Linked DNA regions of Homo sapiens. The protein of the gene in region 4 interacts with the protein of the main gene of each other region in a biochemical or structural test. Each region holds a gene or a part of one and is shown on either strand. Other genes may lie near its edges.

Region 1 (4,869 bases), on a different chromosome or scaffold from region 4:
TGATATCCTTCAGGACTTCCTCCTAGGGTTGTTCCTGTTACCTGCCAAGTGAACTTGGTTCAGGCTTCCGGACTGTTGTGATTTGACAATAAGAGATGGGAAATAGTGTCATCGATTTTAGTGGAAGCAGGAAAAGTCCACAAATAAATTTAAGGTGAGTTTTTATGACCCTGTCTTGCACATGTGGTGCCCCAAACTTAACTTTTTGGCACCAAGCCTTTTGGTTTGAAGTGTTGCTGGAACTTGGAAGCAATGGTTTTCCTGCTTTCTTGGTTTAACCACCAGAATGCCCAAATTATTATAATTTATATCCATCCTTGATCTAAGATATAACTGATTCATAGTCAGCCTTTTTCTGCTTCCCATAACAGCCTGTAGAAAAAAGAACATTTTGTCTCTTTAACCACACACGATTTATTTGGTGCCATAGTAGGTTTTGACACTGGGTGATTGAGGGCATAATTTTAGAGACAATGGAGTTGTCTGGATTAAATCGTCCATTTTTAGGCAACGTTCTCTTCTGAGTTGCTGATTAATTCTTTATTTCTCTGGGAACATTAAAACCAGCATCCCTGAGCCAGTGGAACTATAATCCATATTATAATGACTCCTGCCAGCATAGCTGGAGGTTAACTTTATGTCGTTGTTTCCATTAGACATTTCTAACCTAATTGTAAAGATTTTGTCTCAGTTGGGTTGAGAGTAGGGTTGAGAGTCTCATAGAAAAAGAAATGGCTTTATTTTTATCTTTATGATAAAATAAAGTTTGTGTTACAGGAATACATTTACAGAAGCAAAATAAAGAAGAGTGTTTATATATTTGTGGGGAGGATTTGTTTTAGTGTTTAAAATAGTTTGGTTTTCAACTGTCTCTTAAATGCATATTTCAGTGGTGGAAAAACCAGAACCTCTCCCTGCCCCCTTTCTCCCCACGTTATGAAAGTGTTCACTGTACAAAGAACTCTTAAGCCTTTCTGGGTCTTGGTTTTCTCATTTTTTTCATCCCTAAAATGGGATTACCTTGCATCCCTAAAGTTCTGTGACTCTCCAAAAGTTTGAGAAATGTAGGAATTCTGAAGCCAGTGCTGTAATGTTAGAACACTGCTATGGGGTTTATAAGGGCTTGATTTACACATTTTATCCCTAACCCTTTATTTGAATAAACCAAGGCCTAGAAAGTTAAATTAGACCTGTATCATCTATAAATAGTTGAGTTGAACTTGAACCAGAGTCTTCTGATTCTCCCTAGTCTCTTCTCCTCTGTTTATTCAAACCTGCCAAACAGACTAAAGTTAATATGTGGCAATTTCTCACAATACATTTTTAGGGTTATATATGAGTTATTTTGATTTCAGAACCCCAGGGTTAACATCTATGCTTTGATGTCAGGGATTAAAAACAGTTCACCAATAATGGTAATAAAACTTTCTCCTCAAGAGAGTTTCAGAAAGTCACATGCTTCAAACTAATCATTTGTTTATTTTCAACTTCTTTTTTATTAAGTAGGCTTCAGGGTGTAATGTGATTTATAATCCGGACTAGTAACCCAGACAGCATTCTTAAGGAAATCACTTCTCAAATCTGTACCTCTTTTTAAAAATAAAAAATGAACATATCATTTGCCTTTGATCTTGGTATCTCTCAGCCTAATTGCAAAGCCTGGGTGAGTATTCCTTTTTTTGGTGTCATCATTCTTGGACTGTTCCTACTGATGGCTGGATAAGTCTGATTTTGCAGCACTTTCCATGCTAAATACATCCTTCCCTTATGCTGTTGGGTTGATGGTAAAGAGGTAGTAGGTTGCAGGTGACCCATTTTTGCTGTGTCTCTAAATGTTTGTGCTTTGTCCTGCTTGCCTAGTTAGCAGCACTCACTGCAGCTTGACACTCATCTGGAGGCTGGTATTGATTTTCTTTAACAGGTTCTAAAATGCAATTATGTGTTAAGCTGTAGGCTCTTTTATGTCTGAGCAGCTTGTCCATCTTCAGCTTTTTAAACTTATTCTCAGAGGAATGTCTTTTCAAAATATTAAGCAATGGGGTTTAAACCTCAATAAGAAGATGTATCAGTGCTCATTGGCTGGGAAGGAGGTGTAGTATATCTGAAATTGCCGCCATTTCCATGAGTGAGAGAAGAGAACATTATGAAGTGCTATTAGCTAGAGAAGTTGGGACACTTTGTACCAGGAGGGCACAAGAGCAGCAAAGGAGAAGAATGATTCTTGGTTTTTAATAATATTATCAGGAGCATGGATTTGGAATGATAGAGGACTTTGAAGAAGGCTTTCAGAGGACATTATCTTGTGGAGAGTGAAAGGAGTTCTCCTGGTTTGGTTTAGCTGTGTTGCTGATGGAACTTGCCCTTCTAGGGTCGGTGTTGTCTTTAGGTTCCCCTGCAGGTGGGTGTGATCAAGGAGAATGTTCTAGAAAGAAGAGTTCCATAGACAGAATGTCAAGGACAAAAGTGTTGCAGAGGGATGACATAGTTCCTGGATTTTAGCACAGATTTTTTCGCTAACATGAGGGAATTTATTAGGGGAAACCTTCCAGTTGTAGAGGTAGACAGATGCGAACCCATCATGTTCAGTTCACATAGCCCAGAGCCACAGTGACTCAACCTCTTCCCTGCCCCACCTCAGCACACCTAGGGTTACGTGCCAGTCATGAACAGTGGCTTATTACCTCTTTGGGTAGGAGATGGGGGTGGAGAGTAGGGAAGTCTCTCAGAAGCACTCAGCTGTGACCTTTTCATGCATGTATACCCATGCAAAAATGGGATCCTCTGTTGCATGAGCTTTTGAAGAAATATGAAAAAGATCATACGTATACGGCTGCTGGTATTATAGCTCTCAAGCCTCACATCCAGAATTGGCCTTTTTGATGTTAGTTCCAATTTGGGAAAGCCCTGGAGGGAACCCGAATTGGCTTGATGCCAGCCAAAGGAGAGTTACGGTTAGACCCATAAAATGGGGCTGTGGGGAGACAAAGTATCCCACAAAGAAGAGGGTTATTGTTAATGGAAGAGGGAGGGAGCTGGATCAACAAAAGAGCTAGCCAGGGCAGTGTACATTTCCACAAGTGGTACTGCTGATCATAACAACATACCAAAGGATATGAAGATTCTTAATGTTGTTGTGATGTACACCCCTGTAGTCTTGAGGGCAGTGGACTTGTCCACATTCTGTGGGACTCTGAATTGCTATGTACACAGACATGAGGGGGTATTGAATTACTGCTAAAAACGTAAGAGTTGGTCATTATTCCCATGTAACCCATTACACTCCCCTCTCTCTGCCATGCTTTGTTCTAAATTACTTGGGATAAGTAACATTAATTATTAATGTTTATTGAGTGCCGGCTGACTCTGAACTACATGTTTGAATTTTAAAAGTCTGTGGATGAAACAGTTTGGTTCTTTCTTCTCCTGTTGTCCTACATACGTAGAATACTATGGCAGGGATGGTCACCATACAACAGCATTCTGTGTTCTGGTCCTCCTTGCTTCTTGTGGCTTAACAACAACTGTTTATTTGCTTGGGATTCAGAAATGGGGGCCAGGTTCCCTGTGCCTAGGCTCACTGGTGCCGTGGTGGTTACATGATTCATTGAGGGCCATTGCTGCAATAGTTTACAACATTATAACCATCCTTGATACCTATGGAAGATTGGTTCCAGGATTCCCACGGATACTAAAATCCTCAAATGCTTAAGTCCCTTATTAAAAATCATGTATTATTTGCATATAGCTTATGCATACCCTCATATATATATATTTTTTAATTTTATTATTTCGAGACAGAGTCTCACTCTGTTACCCAGGCTGGAGCACAGTGGTACAATCTCAGCTACTGCAACCTTTGCCTCCCGGGTTCAAGTGATTCTCCTGCCTCGGCCTCCCGAGTAGCTGGGATTACAGGCATGTGCCACCACGCCTGGCTAATTTTTGTGTTTTTAGTAAAGATGGGGTTTCACCATGTTGGCCAGGCTGGTCTTGAACTCCTGACCTCAGGTGATCCACCTGCCTCAGCCTCCCAAAGTGCTGGGATTACAGGCGTGAGCCACCTTGCCTGGCCTCCTTTGTATTTTATTTTGAGAAAGGGTTTCCATTTGTTGCCCAGGCTGGACTGCACTGGTGTGATCATGGCTCACTGCATCCTCAACCTCCTGGACTCATGCAATCCTTCCACCTCAGCCTCCTAAGTAGCTGGGAGTACAGGTGCACACCACCACACCCAGCTAATTTTTGTATTTTTTTTTTTTTTTTTTTTTTGTAGAGACAGGGTCTTACTATGAGACCAGACCAGGCTGGTCTCAACTCTTGGTTCAAGTGATCCTCCTGCCTTGGCCTCTCAAAGTGCTGGGATTACAGGCATGAGCCAACCCCCCAGTCCTCCTTCATACTTTAAATCATCTCTAGATTATTTATAATACCTAATATAATGTAAATGCTAGATAAATAGTTGTTATTCTGTATTGTTTTAAAATTTATATTTTTATTGTATTTATTGTATTTTATTGTGTTTATTGTATTGTTATCTTTTTTCCAGTGGTCAGTTACTAGAATATTTTTTGAATATTTTCTAACCTAGGTTTGTTGAATCTGTGGCCATGGAACCTGAGATATGGAGGGTTGGGTGTGGAGGGGGGTGACTGTGCTTACTACTATAATCCTGCTTTTGATTAGTTTTCCACTGGCCATGTACTTAAGGGTAAGGTGGATGCGTCCCCTGCCCCAGGGAGTGAATTTTGATTAAGCCATCAATTTTAGTAATGCCATACCTTTTGCCAGTGACTCATTAATGAATATGTATGTGACGCCTGTTAGGTCCTGGCATATTTGAAGCATAAGGTTGTCAGCACAAGAGAACAA
Region 2 (4,013 bases), on a different chromosome or scaffold from region 4:
TCTTCTACTGGATTAGACAAGAGAGATAGCAGCATATCAGAGCTGATCTCCTCCACCTTTCTCCAATGACAGAAGTTCCAGGACTGGTTTTCCAGTACATCTTTAAACAAGGCCCCAGAGACTCTATGTCTGCCCGTCCATCAGTGAACTCATTAAAACTTGTGCAGTGTTGCTGGAGCTGGCCTGGTGTCTCCAAATGACCATGAAAATACACACGTATAATGGAGATCATTCTCTGTGGGTATGCAAAGTTATGGGAATTCCTTTATAGGTAACTGCCATTTAGGACTGATGGCCCTAATTTTTGAGGTGCTGATTTAGAGGCAAAATTGCAGAATAACAAAGAAATGGTATTTCAAGTTTTTTTTTTTATAAGCAATGTAATTATGCTATTCACAGGGGCCTCAAGAATTGGTATGTATGATGTGATCTGGTCCAGCCAGGGCCTGGCTTGTCAGCTCTCTAGGTTTGATATGACTTTAGTAAATTTGTCAATATAGATGGTAGGAAGCAGAATGCCATTTTATTAAAACACAGGAGAAGTTATATCTCTCTGATTATGATAGTATTTTATTTACTTATCCAAACCCTCCTTTCTCAGTATGGATAGATCATGGAAACCAGATTAGAGATAGTAAGCATTAGTAAACATTGTTCTGGAGAACAGGAACAGGTGTAAGTTGTAGAAATCCTGAAGAGCCAGTCATTCTTTTACAGAGTACATTCTTCTTAGCCTCTATGGCGCTGGTCTATGCCCTTCAGTGAACAGTTGTATAAACAATAATTATAATTTGCAACCTTGTCTTGTCAACCTTGCTGATCCAGCTTTTTCTTATTATTACACCTTGTCTTGCTTATTGCAGCAAATATTCAATAACAACAATGTTTCTATAAGTCCAACTTCCTTTATTAATGTTTCCATTTAGCCTCAAAAATATCAAAGTAGTTCCTTTTTGATGTTGTTTTCCTGATTTACTTTTCCCATAAGTTTTAAATACCATTTCTGCCTTGAAGCCTAGAAATTTTCTTTTTATTCAAAAAAAGTTACATTAATGCTCTAGGTTTGAGGTTCTAAAATGGAAATGTCAATAGAGGAGCATGGTCCTATGTGAGGTTCCTATCAAAATTTGTGGGAGTAGGGATGGTAGAGCATGAGGGTTTTGTTTGTGTATGTGTATGGTCATGAAAAAAAATTGAGAAACATTACCTCATACACAATGAATGAATCAGAGGACAGACACGGGAATGGCACGACTGTGCAGTGTGTTACTAGGAAAAAAGTTCAGAATCACTGTTCTAGAGAGCTTCATTTCCATTGGTTTTAAAACATTATTCTCATGTAGAACAGTGTTGGGTCTCATACTGTTAATGTTAATACGTAACAATGTTCATGTTAACAGGCACCTGTTAATATTAACAGATAATGTTACTGTTAACAGGTAAGAGAAATTGCTCTAAGTGCCCAAACTTTATATACTTCAGTTTTAATGACAAGCATTTCAGAAATATAAGAGCGGCAGCCAGACCAACCAGTTTTTCCAGATATCTTGATGTGAACCTGACCCTACTCCTTTAGAAGACAGCCTGTTCATTTTTAAATAGCTTTAACCCAAACTGTTCTATGACCATTGTTTCAAGAGACATTAACACAGTTCTGTAAATAGAAGTGTCTATGGACAAATAAGTTTGGGAAATGTGGCATACTGTATCCTTTTCTTAACATTTGCATATTAAAGACTCTGAGATATCCTGCAGTAAAGACACAAGATACCTTGTTTAAATTAACATGTACGCTGCAGAACATTGGTTTGGAAAAAACTGTTGAGCAGTTCTTCCTTGTAAGTGCTGAGCTTCCTCTCTGAAACCTCCTACCATTGTTTTTTTTCCCCTGTAGCTAACAAGAATAAGTATAACAGCCGGCCAGGCACAGTGGCTCATGCCTGTAATCCCAGCACTTTGGGAGGCTGAGACAGGTGGATCACCTGAGGTCAGGAGTTCGAGACCAGCCTGGCCAACATGGTGAAACCGTGTCTCTACTAAAAGTACAAAAATTAGCCAGGTGTGATGGCAGGTGCCTGTAATCCCAGCTACTCGGGAGGCTGAAGCAGAAGAATTGCTTGAACCCGGGAGGCAGAGGTTGCAATGAGCCGAGATCACGCCATCACACTCTAGCCTGGGGGACAAGAGTGAGACTTCATCTAAAAAAAAAAAGAAAAGAATATGTATACCCCCTTTTTCATGTGGCAGATGTTTAGCTATTTGGGGAGAACTTTCATGGCTCTTCCCTAATCATCAAGTATTCAAGGTAAAGATTCTCGGTTCCTGTAATGGTTCCTCACCAGGCATAATTTGTCCTTTTACCATCCTACTTTCTGTCTTCTGAAAAACATTCTTTATCTGAAATACAGCAATTAATATTAAGATATCTTAATATGAAGTGCCTGGAGTCAAATATAACATTCCAAAGTAGTCTGACTGGAAGAACTAGCACCTGCCTTTCTTCAAACAATGCACTTCTGTTAATGCAGTGTAAGGTAACATGAGTTGTTTTTGGAAACTACATCATAATGTGGGCTTACATTCTAGCACTTATCACTTAATGACAGGGATACATTTGAGGAATGCATTGTTAGGCAATTTTGTCATTATGCAAACATCATAGAGTGTACTTACACAAACCTATGGTATAGCCTACTACACATCTAAGTTATATGGTATAGACTGTTTCTCCAGCTATATGGTGTAGACTGTTTCTCCTAGGCTACAAACCTGCACAGCATGTTACTGTATTAAATGCTGTAGGCAATTGTAACACAATGGTATTTTTATACTTAAACATATCTAAACATAGAAACGGTACAAAAAACTTTACACATTATATAGATGTATCAAATTATTCATATGTGCTCTGAAAATGTCTATATCTGTTATGTATCAATTTTTTAAAAAGTGAATGACATAATTCATTTGAAAAAATGTGGACACACAAATTGGAAAAGAGGTATAAATGCAGTATTATAATCTAATGGGACCACCATCACATATTTGGTCTGTCATTGACTGAAACTGCAATATAGAGTTTTTCTTAACATTTGCATATTAAAGACTCTGACTATATATGGACATATATGACTGTCACCATTGTAAGACATTTTGATGTTATTCTAAGTGACATGTTAAACCATTGGAAGTTTAGAACATGAGAGTGACATAATGTGATCATTTAAGATCACTTTGGCTGCTAAGGGGAGAATTATCTATAGTCAGGAAGGAAAAGAAGTAAGGAGTTAAGTTAGGAGGCTTTTGCAATAGTTCAGGCAATAGATGGTAGTGACTTGGACAAGGTGATAGTAGTGGAGGTGGAGAGAAATGGTTTGACTTGGAATTAAACTTTAAGCTAGAACTGACAAGATTTGAGTGTAGTTTGGATACACAATTTAAAAGAAAGAAATGCGCCAGATGTGGTGCCTTACACCTGTAATCTCAATTCTTTGCAAGGATAAGGCAGGAAGATTCTTTGAAGCCGGGAGTTCAAGACCACTCTAGGCAACATAATGAGACCCCCTCTCTACAAGAAATAAAAATAAAAAAATTAGCCGGGTGTGGTGGTGTGCACCTGCAACCCCAGCTTCTCAGGAGGCTGAGGCAGAACAATCCCTTGAGCCCAGGTGCTTAAAGCTGCAATGAGCTATGATCACACCACTGTACTCCAGCCTGGACAATAGGACCCTGTCTCAAAATGAAAGAAGCGGTGGGGGGTGGAGAGAGAGAGAGAAAGGAAGGAAGGAAGGAAGGAAGCAAGGAAGGAAGGAAGGAAGGAAGGAAAAAGAAAAGAAAAAGAAAGAAAGAAAAAAGCTCACTCCTAGATTTGGTCCTAAGTAGTAAGGATGAATCAGGATGCAATTTTCTAGAAATAGCAAAGACTAGGATAAGAAAAGTTTTCTGGTATGAGTTTTGTTTTGGACATGTTGAGCTTCTACCCATGCTAATGGATATCCAATTAGAGACATTAA
Region 3 (5,465 bases), on a different chromosome or scaffold from region 4:
AGGAAGGAAGGAAGGAAGGCAGGCAGGCAGGCAGGCAGGCAGGCAGGCAGGCAGGCAGGCAGGCAGGCAAGCTGCATCTCTAACAAGCACCCCTTGTGATCCTTGTGCACATTGCATTGATAGGCACTCTTTTGACCAGGATGGAAAGAAAGAGAATTCAGGGGACCCCTCTTGACAGCTACCAGTGGGACAGGCTGAGGACACCTGACTTTCTAAGAGGTCACACCTGCTGGATGAAGTCAGGTCTGTAAAACTCTGGACTCTGCAAACAAGGTTTTGAGTCCCCATTTACAAGCCAGTTGACATAATCTTGGAGGTCCAGTTACCGCTGCTGTCAAATGGGGATAACAATCGTGTCTCTCCCCAAAGGGGCTGTGAGCATGAGACGAGATGAGATGAGCTTCATCCCGAGTGTTCACCCCAATCCACTCAGTGTAAAGACAATCCCTGCTGGCTATTGTCCCAAATGGTGCAGGGCCCCACATAGGCTTAGGGTCCACAGCTGAGCCAGCTACAGCCTCTGTCCTCAAGGACTTAGAATGCAGCAGACCAGATCTTGCACACAATGCACTTTACGATGCAGCAGCTGTGGCCAAGCCTAAAAGAGGAGCATCAGAGAACACGAGACCCAAAGGAAGAAAAGGTGATCTTGGACGGATGAAGGCACCAGGGAAGAAGGCCCAGACACAGCCTTTTACCCAACTCTGATGGGCCAGAGGGATGTCCACCAGCCTTCCCTGCCAAGAAGTCACCCTGAGCCCGGTTTGCTAGGCAGTGATCAGGAGATGCATCTGGAAGAGTAAACCGAAGCTGGTACACAGAGAGTTGTGAACGTCGGCATAGGGAGTCAGGATTGTCTCCTAGAGTCAAAGCCTTCAGAGCCAAATTCCTCCCATGCGTGTGCTTCCTGTGGCCCACAGTGTTTTTCAGTTTCATTTTTGAATCAGATGCCAACATTTTAAAATTGAGAGTGATTATGTCACTACTGGGATTCTAAGCTTTTTGCGACAGTGGGAGGATGAGGCAATGCTGGGCCTGATACCATCGGCTGGGGTGGGGCGGACAGACGTCCTTACTTGTTCACTTTACCTACCCAGCCTCCATATGCAGCAAGAGTTTGAGACCCCTGCACAGGACTTTGGGGACTCTTTGAGGACCTTGGTCAGGAGAAGGGTAGAATTAGTTCTGTGCTTTGGAAGGTCCTCTGATGACAATTGATACTAGCGATGATGGTGCCGATGATCAGAAAGAGGAAAAGGAGGAAGAAGCAGAGAATAGTTCATATTTACTAAGCTTTCATGATGGGGGCTCTGCCCCAGTGTTTATTCCTAGTAGCCCATTTAGTTCTCCCCACAAGCTGATGAGGTGCGTATGCTGTCATCCTCCTTTTTCAGACAAAGCACAGAGCGGTGAGGTCTCTTGCCTAAGGTCATATAGTTGGTAAGTAGCAGAGCCAGGTAGTCTGGGTCCAGGACCCACAGCACTGGTGATGGGGGAGGGGAAATGGTGAGGGGGGGTCTGGGAGACGTGAGTCTTCCCTCAATCTTTCACCGTAGGAGATTGTCTGGTTTTAAAAGAGAAGATGTGTCCACATCTAACCCCGATCTGAGCACTAATGCAATGTCTTTCTCCACTGTTCTCAGAAAGGCTGGTTTTTCTTAATAAACTTGTCAGGCAGGGAAGGAGGGCAGAGGCACTCAAGGGCCGGCTCAGGTGGCTTGGCTGCATGCCCTGGCTCCAGACTCCACTGCCATGTTCCCGTTCCCTGCTTGGCCAGCATAAAGTTGACCCCACTGTGAGGACCAGCAGACCTCACAAGAATGACCCCATCCACGCCTACTGGGGCTCCACCTGCCCATGACTCACCACACCCAAGCCTCTGAGCCCAGTGGACTTGCAAAAGAGAAAATAAAGCACACACATAAAGAATAACCAACCCCATGCATTTCCTGGCATCGGGTGACTGTTTGGTTAAGAGCTTCCTCCTCTTTTGTATGCCCACTGGATACTCCTAACATCCCCTAGCTGCTGACCACAGAGCTGGCTTAGGTGGCTGATCACAAGCTCAGCCCCTGGGCGGGCCCCCCACCCCAGCCACCAGGGAAGCATGGAAGGAGGCCAGCCGCTGGGATCTGCCAGCTCTGGGCCCCAGCGGCCACCCTCTGCAGCTCAAAGTCACCTTTGCTCCTCTCCTCTCCTCGGCTGGCCAGCCAGAACCAGCCCAGAACTCCCTCCCCTCCGCTCAGCAGGACCCAGGAACTGGTCCCTACTGGGCAATTATTAATCAGATTCTTGACATTCCTCAGCCCCAGGTTGGCTGGAGAAGCATGTTCCCCAGAGGAGCAGAGGCCCAGGACTGGCATTTGGATATGCAGCTGACCGGCAAGGTGGTGCTGTCAGCCGCTGCCCTGCTCCTGGTGACTGTGGCCTACAGGCTGTACAAGTCGAGGCCTGCCCCAGCCCAGCGGTGGGGTGGGAATGGCCAGGCAGAAGCCAAGGAGGAAGCAGAGGGCTCAGGGCAGCCTGCTGTACAGGAGGCTTCTCCTGGGGTGCTCCTGAGGGGGCCAAGACGTCGGAGGAGCAGCAAGCGGGCTGAAGCACCACAGGGCTGCAGCTGTGAGAATCCAAGAGGCCCCTATGTCCTGGTCACGGGGGCCACTTCCACAGACAGGAAGCCCCAGAGAAAAGGCTCAGGTGAGGAGCGGGGCGGGCAGGGCTCGGACTCTGAGCAGGTGCCTCCTTGCTGCCCCAGCCAGGAAACCAGAACAGCTGTTGGCAGTAACCCTGACCCTCCCCATTTCCCCCGCTTGGGCAGCGAACCGAAGAGCTCCCCAGCTGGACTCATTGCAGCAGCCGACGGCAGCTGTGCCGGTGGTGAGCCTTCTCCATGGCAGGACAGTAAACCCCGTGAGCATCCAGGACTGGGGCAACTAGAACCTCCCCACTGTCACTACGTGGCTCCCTTGCAAGGCAGCAGTGACATGAACCAGAGCTGGGTCTTCACCCGTGTGATAGGGGTCAGCAGAGAAGAGGCTGGGGCTCTCGAGGCTGCCTCCGATGTTGACCTGACCCTGCATCAGCAGGAGGGCGCCCCCAACTCCTCCTATACCTTCTCATCCATAGCCCGCGTCCGAATGGAGGAGCATTTCATACAGAAGGCGGAGGGGGTTGAGCCCCGGCTCAAGGGCAAGGTGTACGACTACTATGTGGAATCTACCTCTCAGGCCATCTTCCAGGGCAGGCTGGCTCCCAGGACAGCAGCCCTGACTGAGGTTCCATCCCCTAGGCCACCGCCAGGGTCCCTGGGAACAGGGGCTGCCTCGGGAGGCCAAGCCGGTGACACAAAGGGTGCAGCCGAAAGAGCCGCCTCCCCGCAGACAGGGCCGTGGCCCTCCACCCGAGGCTTCAGCCGGAAGGAGAGCCTTCTGCAGATAGCGGAGAACCCAGAGCTGCAGCTGCAGCCAGATGGCTTCCGGCTCCCCGCTCCACCCTGCCCAGACCCGGGCGCCCTGCCTGGCTTAGGCAGAAGCAGCCGGGAGCCCCATGTGCAGCCGGTGGCCGGGACCAATTTCTTCCATATCCCGCTCACCCCTGCTTCAGCCCCACAGGTCCGCCTGGATCTGGGCAATTGCTATGAGGTGCTGACCTTGGCCAAGAGGCAGAACCTGGAGGCCCTGAAAGAGGCGGCCTACAAGGTGATGAGCGAAAACTACCTGCAGGTGCTGCGCAGCCCGGACATCTACGGGTGCCTGAGCGGGGCAGAGCGCGAGCTGATCCTGCAGCGCCGGCTCCGGGGCCGCCAGTACCTGGTGGTGGCTGACGTGTGCCCCAAGGAAGACTCCGGCGGCCTCTGTTGCTATGACGATGAGCAGGATGTCTGGCGCCCGCTGGCTCGCATGCCCCCCGAGGCCGTGTCCCGGGGCTGTGCCATCTGCAGTCTCTTCAATTATCTCTTCGTGGTGTCCGGCTGCCAGGGGCCCGGGCACCAGCCCTCCAGCCGCGTCTTCTGCTACAACCCGCTCACGGGGATCTGGAGCGAGGTGTGCCCGCTGAACCAGGCCCGGCCGCACTGCCGGCTGGTGGCCCTGGACGGGCACCTGTATGCCATCGGCGGAGAGTGTCTGAACTCGGTGGAGCGTTACGACCCCCGCCTGGACCGCTGGGACTTTGCCCCGCCGCTCCCCAGTGACACGTTCGCCCTGGCGCACACGGCCACGGTGCGTGCCAAGGAAATCTTCGTCACCGGCGGCTCGCTGCGCTTCCTGCTGTTCCGCTTCTCTGCGCAGGAGCAGCGCTGGTGGGCCGGCCCCACCGGGGGCAGCAAGGACCGCACGGCCGAGATGGTGGCGGTCAACGGCTTTCTCTACCGCTTTGACCTCAACCGCAGCCTGGGCATCGCCGTGTACCGCTGCAGCGCCAGCACCCGGCTCTGGTACGAGTGCGCCACGTACCGGACGCCTTACCCGGATGCCTTCCAGTGCGCCGTGGTGGACAACCTCATCTACTGCGTGGGACGCCGGAGCACCCTCTGCTTCCTAGCAGACTCTGTCTCACCCAGGTTTGTGCCCAAGGAGCTGCGGAGTTTCCCGGCCCCGCAGGGCACCCTCCTGCCCACCGTCCTGACCTTGCCCACCCCCGATTTGCCTCAGACCAGGGTCTAGCAGTCCCTCAACTGAGCTCCTCATGCAAAGCTGGGGGCCACCGGGCTCCACTGCCAGCCGTCCCTCTGGGGGCCATTTCTAGGCAAACAGGCAACCCAGGAATGTGGCCATCAAGAGGTGAATTCCGGTCCTTTCTCCTCCCCTAGCTGGGGAGAGAGGGATCTTAGATGAGTCTTACCCTTCATGGGCTGCAGAGGCCCCACTGCAGAAAAGAGGACCAGGAGCTGGTGTTCCAAGGCAGAAGGCATTCATGTCTTCAGGGATGACCGCCCTTGCTTCAACTCTGAATTCTTGGGGGGATACACCGGGACCCCACCAAAGCTTAGGGGGCATAGTCTTTTTGCAATCACAATTCTAGGAGCCAGTTGACCCCAGCAGCCCCTCGCTAGTTGCTCTGGAGAGGGGTTGGCTCTCTGAGCCATCAGTGCCCCTTCCTAAACATCAGCCACTGGGCCCCACCTCCACAGTTCCCAGAAGCACCGGGACACACAGGTGGGAAAGATGGAGGCAGGTGACTTGGGCAGGGCCAGGAAGGAGCCGAGGGAGCCCCAGGGGCCCTGGCCAGAGGGAGTGGTGGTTTGAAAAGTAGAACAGCTGAAGCTGGGGCCAGCCTAGGAGACTCTTGCTTGCGAGAAAATATACCAAAGCCCACATTACTTTTCTCCTTATTGGAAGAAAGAGAAGCAGCCATTGTACCAAGCTATCTTCTGGTGGAGGTCTGCTAAGGATACACGGAGGTCTCAGCAAAGGGAAGAAACTATGTGATCCAAGGGCCACCCTGCTCCTCGGCCCTGCCCATGTTAA
Region 4 (4,792 bases):
GTCGGGGATCTGAAGTCAAGGGGTCGGCAGGGCTGCACTCTGCCTCTGAGGCTCCAGGGAAAGCTACTTCCTTGCCCCTTCCAGCTTCTGCTGGCTCCAGGCATCCTTGGCTTGTGGCTGCCTCCCTGCAGTCTCTACCTCTGTCTTCACTTGACCTTCTTTCTCTCTGAGTATCTGTGTGCACATCTCTCTCTCGTTTCTCTTATGAAAACATCCATCATTGGAGTTAGGGCCCACTCTAAACCAAGAAGGTCTCTTCTCAAGATCTTCAACTAATGACATCTATAAAGGTCCTATTTCCAAACAAGGTCACATTCTGAGGCTCTGGGTGTACACGAATTTGGGGGAACACCATTCTGCATTCCCAGGACACTCAAGTGGCAGAAGGTGCCTCCTCATAGCACACAGAGCCCTGGCCTCCCTCTCCAGCCTTGAACTCATCCTGCTGTGTCGGAATCACCTGTGGTGGGACCGCCCCACCCCATCCTGCCTCCTCGGCTGTCAGCTCCTTGGGAGCAAGGACTGTGACCTACTTATTCCTCCACTCTGCCCCAAAAGCAGGTCCACTGCAGAGCAGGTGCCTGGAAATGCTGAATGAGTGCAAGAAAGAAGGGGCTGGGGGAGAGGAAGCAGGGGCAGGATAGAAGGGAGGCTGGAAGTACAAACTTGAGCTTCGAGGTTTGAAGAAGGGAGAGGTCACTGCATCGGGAGCCTAGGAAGAACTCGAGAATGCTCAAGTGACCATTTCCTCAAAGCACACAGTCCCTAAAGCTGTCATTCCTCCTGTTTCACCAACTCTGCTAATCTAGGGGTGACATTTGAAAAAAATTATCAATGTCCAGTATGCCAATTTATCTTTTGTTTTCTGTCTCTTTTATCTGTCTGTCCATCCCACCTCTGTCCAGTCTTCTGTCTGTCTGTTCCATGACTCAGCATTGTCTGTTCATTCCATGACTCAGCATTGTCTGTCCGTTCCGTGACTCAGCATTGTCTGTACGTTCCGTGACTCAGCATTGTCTGTCCATTCCATGACTCAGCATTGCCTGTCTGTCCATTTCTCCTTCTATCCACCCATCCAGCATCATTCCTTCATTCATCCATCCATCCATCCATCCATCCATCCTCCCGCCCCTCCTCCCACCTGTCTACCCACTCTCTCTCCTCTCTTCACGCTTCTAACCAGCTATTGCTACCACGTTTCTCTTAAGAAGCACATCTGGTAGGGGACACAGAGTGGCCAGTGGTGGGACAGGGCAGTATGGGGGCCCAGAGGTGGCTCCTCTTCTGGTCTGGTGCTGGAGGGAGGGAGGGGCAGCTTCATACCAAAGAGCTGGGCAAAGGCTCAGGGGAGGGGCCTTGACGGCAGACTCTTTCCAGCCTGGTGGATGAGCTGAAGGCCAGCAACCCGGACTTCCCAGAGGTCAGCAGTGGAATTTATGTGCAAGAGGTTGCGCCGAATTCACCTTCTCAGAGGTAGGCTCTGCCAGAGGAGATCGCTCGAGGCATGGGGCAGGCGTGAGGTCTGGGCTGGGGCTGCCCCACTGACCTCATGTGACCTTGAGCTTCCCAGCAAAGTGACCGGGAAGGGGCAGGTGGATTCTAGCGTGTCTGCTAAGCCAGAGGAGGCTGGAGAGCTGAATGGTCCCTAGAGCCCTGACTGTGTACGTCCTAAGTCCCACAATGTCATTTCCTTCGAGAAGCAGAGGCTGAAGAGTCCCTGTTGGGCTAAGAACCCACTCCAAGCCAGACTCTTTCACTAGCTGGGGACCAGCCTGGGTCCTGGGTCTTTCTGGGACTCAGCTTCCTCATTGTAAAGTGGAGATAATTCAGCCTATTGTTTTTTTTTTTTTTTTTTTTTTTTTTTTTTTGAGACAGTCTCCCTCTTGTTGCCCAGCCTGGAGTGCAGTGTCGCGATCTCAGCTCACTGCAACCTCTGCCTCCTGGGCTCAAGCGACTCTCCTGCCTCAGCCTTCTGAGTAGCTCAGATTACAAGTGCCCACCACCATGCCCTGCTAATTGTTTTTGTATTTTTAGTAGAGAAGGGGTTTCACCACGTTGGCCAGGCTAGTCTTGAACTGCTGACCTCAGGCGATCCACCTGCCTTGGCCTCCCAAAGTGCTGGGATTTCTACCCCCAGGAGACTTTGTAGATGAAATGGATAAAGGATTGCTTTCTTTGAAGTCTTCCAGTACTAGAGAAATGTTAAGCATTGCAACACCATAGGCTGAGGCAGGCGTGCAGCGACACTACCACATGCTGGCATGGCTGACCCACTCCCAAGAAGGGCTCTGAACCAGTTGCCTCCCCTCCTTAGCCTCGGTCTTCATCTGCAGTGGGAAAAATCCACATATAAGTGGACCCACACAGTTCAGACCCATGTTGTTCAAGGGCCGACTGTACTGTGCATCCTCAGAGGCTGGGCTTGAAGGTGGGAGGCCCCGCGTGAACTTCTGTGATGAGCACAGATGGCACACTTGTCCTGCCCGCAGCAGGCCTGCAGTAAAAATTGTTGAAATTGGGTGAAATTTTCCACACACATCTCAGTTAATCCTCACTGCAGCCAGGGAGGTGCAGGCTCCTGCCCTCACCCATTTTACAGGTGGAGGGACTGAGGTTTAGAGAAGTTACTCTTCCAGGTCACACAGCTGGCATGTGAGGGTCCTGATGCTGGTGCCCACGCAGCTGAGCACAGTACCATCACCTTCCTTCCCAGCAGTGGGGAGGTCTCAGTGAGCCTCATGCAGAGAGAAGGCTGGCCCCGTGAGCTCTGCCTCCCACATAGACGTCTTCGTAACTGCAGTAACAGCAGAACCTACTCCTGGGCCTTTATAATTTGCAAAGTGCGTTTCCACATAGGATGGTAGACATGAAAACTGAGGCACAAGGGGACAGAGTGCCTGGCCCAGCTAGGAGGGCTGCAGCGGGAGCTTGAACCCACCCTTCTGACGCATGGGAGAAGCAGTTTGAAAGGTTGTTTCCCTGTCGTGTGACATTGGTTTTCTTCTGGTGTGAGAGCTTTGGGGCTGGGGCACTGTTCTTTCCCATCGAGATGACTTTTGTTGAAATGTTGTCATTGACCCTGACTGTGCCTCGCTCTGGGCCGGGCCTGGGAAGGCTGTGCCTGGGGAGGCGGTGGGTGGTGACCCCGTCTCTCCTGTTGGCAGAGGCGGCATCCAAGATGGTGACATCATCGTCAAGGTCAACGGGCGTCCTCTAGTGGACTCGAGTGAGCTGCAGGAGGCCGTGCTGACCGAGTCTCCTCTCCTACTGGAGGTGCGGCGGGGGAACGACGACCTCCTCTTCAGCATCGCACCTGAGGTGGTCATGTGAGGGGCGCATTCCTCCAGCGCCAAGCGTCAGAGCCTGCAGACAACGGAGGGCAGCGCCCCCCCGAGATCAGGACGAAGGACCACCGTCGGTCCTCAGCAGGGCGGCAGCCTCCTCCTGGCTGTCCGGGGCAGAGCGGAGGCTGGGCTTGGCCAGGGGCCCGAATTTCCGCCTGGGGAGTGTTGGATCCACATCCCGGTGCCGGGGAGGGAAGCCCAACATCCCCTTGTACAGATGATCCTGAAAGTCACTTCCAAGTTCTCCGGATATTCACAAAACTGCCTTCCATGGAGGTCCCCTCCTCTCCTAGCTTCCCGCCTCTGCCCCTGTGAACACCCATCTGCAGTATCCCCTGCTCCTGCCCCTCCTACTGCAGGTCTGGGCTGCCAAGCTTCTTCCCCCCTGACAAACGCCCACCTGACCTGAGGCCCCAGCTTCCCTCTGCCCTAGGACTTACCAAGCTGTAGGGCCAGGGCTGCTGCCTGCCAGCCTGGGGTCCCTGGAGGACAGGTCACATCTGATCCCTTTGGGGTGCGGGGGTGGGGTCCAGCCCAGAGCAGGCACTGAGTGAATGCCCCCTGGCTGCGGAGCTGAGCCCCGCCCTGCCATGAGGTTTTCCTCCCCAGGCAGGCAGGAGGCCGCGGGGAGCACGTGGAAAGTTGGCTGCTGCCTGGGGAAGCTTCTCCTCCCCAAGGCGGCCATGGGGCAGCCTGCAGAGGACAGTGGACGTGGAGCTGCGGGGTGTGAGGACTGAGCCGGCTTCCCCTTCCCACGCAGCTCTGGGATGCAGCAGCCGCTCGCATGGAAGTGCCGCCCAGAGGCATGCAGGCTGCTGGGCACCACCCCCTCATCCAGGGAACGAGTGTGTCTCAAGGGGCATTTGTGAGCTTTGCTGTAAATGGATTCCCAGTGTTGCTTGTACTGTATGTTTCTCTACTGTATGGAAAATAAAGTTTACAAGCACACGGTTCTCAGCCAGCAGGGCACTGGGGCAGCCTACCCACCACTGGCCAGGGTTCTTCCTGGGGACCCATCTAACACATGACTGGGCATACCTGCAAAGACACGGGCCTTTAAAGGGTTTCTATGACAGCTGAGCACTGGGGCACACCAGGTCTCGGGGTCATGTGGCGCTGTGGAGGGCCAGCTCCGAGTCAGGCAGCCCGGCTCAAGTCCTGGCTCCTCCGCTTACTTCCGGCTTCGTGGTCTTGGGCAAGAGATGTTCCCCTCCCTACCTTGGCCTCTGCCTCTGTCCAGCAGGAAGGCTGGCTCTGCTGTGCTGACCTCCTGGATGCCCTGGGATGCAAGGTGACAGATGCAGCACTTGGGAAGCCACCCGGCTTACGGGGAGCTCCCACTAAGCCCCACTGTGCACGTCTGGTCACATGAAGAACCCTTTCTCACATCTATTTCACCCTCCCTGCCACCCATCCAGCGATGGGGAAACTGAGGCAGAGAGCAATTT

Evidence for each region. Proteins that work in one complex are often made in the same cells at the same time.
Region 1: the proteins of HTRA3 (region 4) and TANC1 interact in a test that uses a peptide from one of them, tested with the Homo sapiens proteins (one large-scale study listed by IntAct).
Region 2: the proteins of HTRA3 (region 4) and SLC15A2 interact in a test that uses a peptide from one of them, tested with the Homo sapiens proteins (one large-scale study listed by IntAct).
Region 3: the proteins of HTRA3 (region 4) and KLHDC7A interact in a test that uses a peptide from one of them, tested with the Homo sapiens proteins (one large-scale study listed by IntAct).

Annotation. Positions count from the first base shown.
Region 1 is NC_000002.12:158,970,661-158,975,529, forward strand, and holds part of TANC1 (protein TANC1), read left to right. Parts: intron 1-4,869. UniProt on the Homo sapiens protein: May be a scaffold component in the postsynaptic density.
Region 2 is NC_000003.12:121,941,066-121,945,078, forward strand, and holds the end of SLC15A2 (solute carrier family 15 member 2), read left to right. Parts: 3' UTR 1-3,123; downstream 3,124-4,013. UniProt on the Homo sapiens protein: Proton-coupled amino-acid transporter that transports oligopeptides of 2 to 4 amino acids with a preference for dipeptides. Transports neutral and anionic dipeptides with a proton to peptide stoichiometry of 2:1 or 3:1.
Region 3 is NC_000001.11:18,478,655-18,484,119, forward strand, and holds the start of KLHDC7A (kelch domain-containing protein 7A), read left to right. Parts: upstream 1-2,275; 5' UTR 2,276-2,327; coding exon 2,328-4,661; 3' UTR 4,662-5,465.
Region 4 is NC_000004.12:8,302,807-8,307,598, forward strand, and holds the end of HTRA3 (serine protease HTRA3 isoform 1 precursor), read left to right. Parts: intron 1-1,377; coding exon 1,378-1,473; intron 1,474-3,164; coding exon 3,165-3,330; 3' UTR 3,331-4,292; downstream 4,293-4,792. UniProt on the Homo sapiens protein: Serine protease that cleaves beta-casein/CSN2 as well as several extracellular matrix (ECM) proteoglycans such as decorin/DCN, biglycan/BGN and fibronectin/FN1.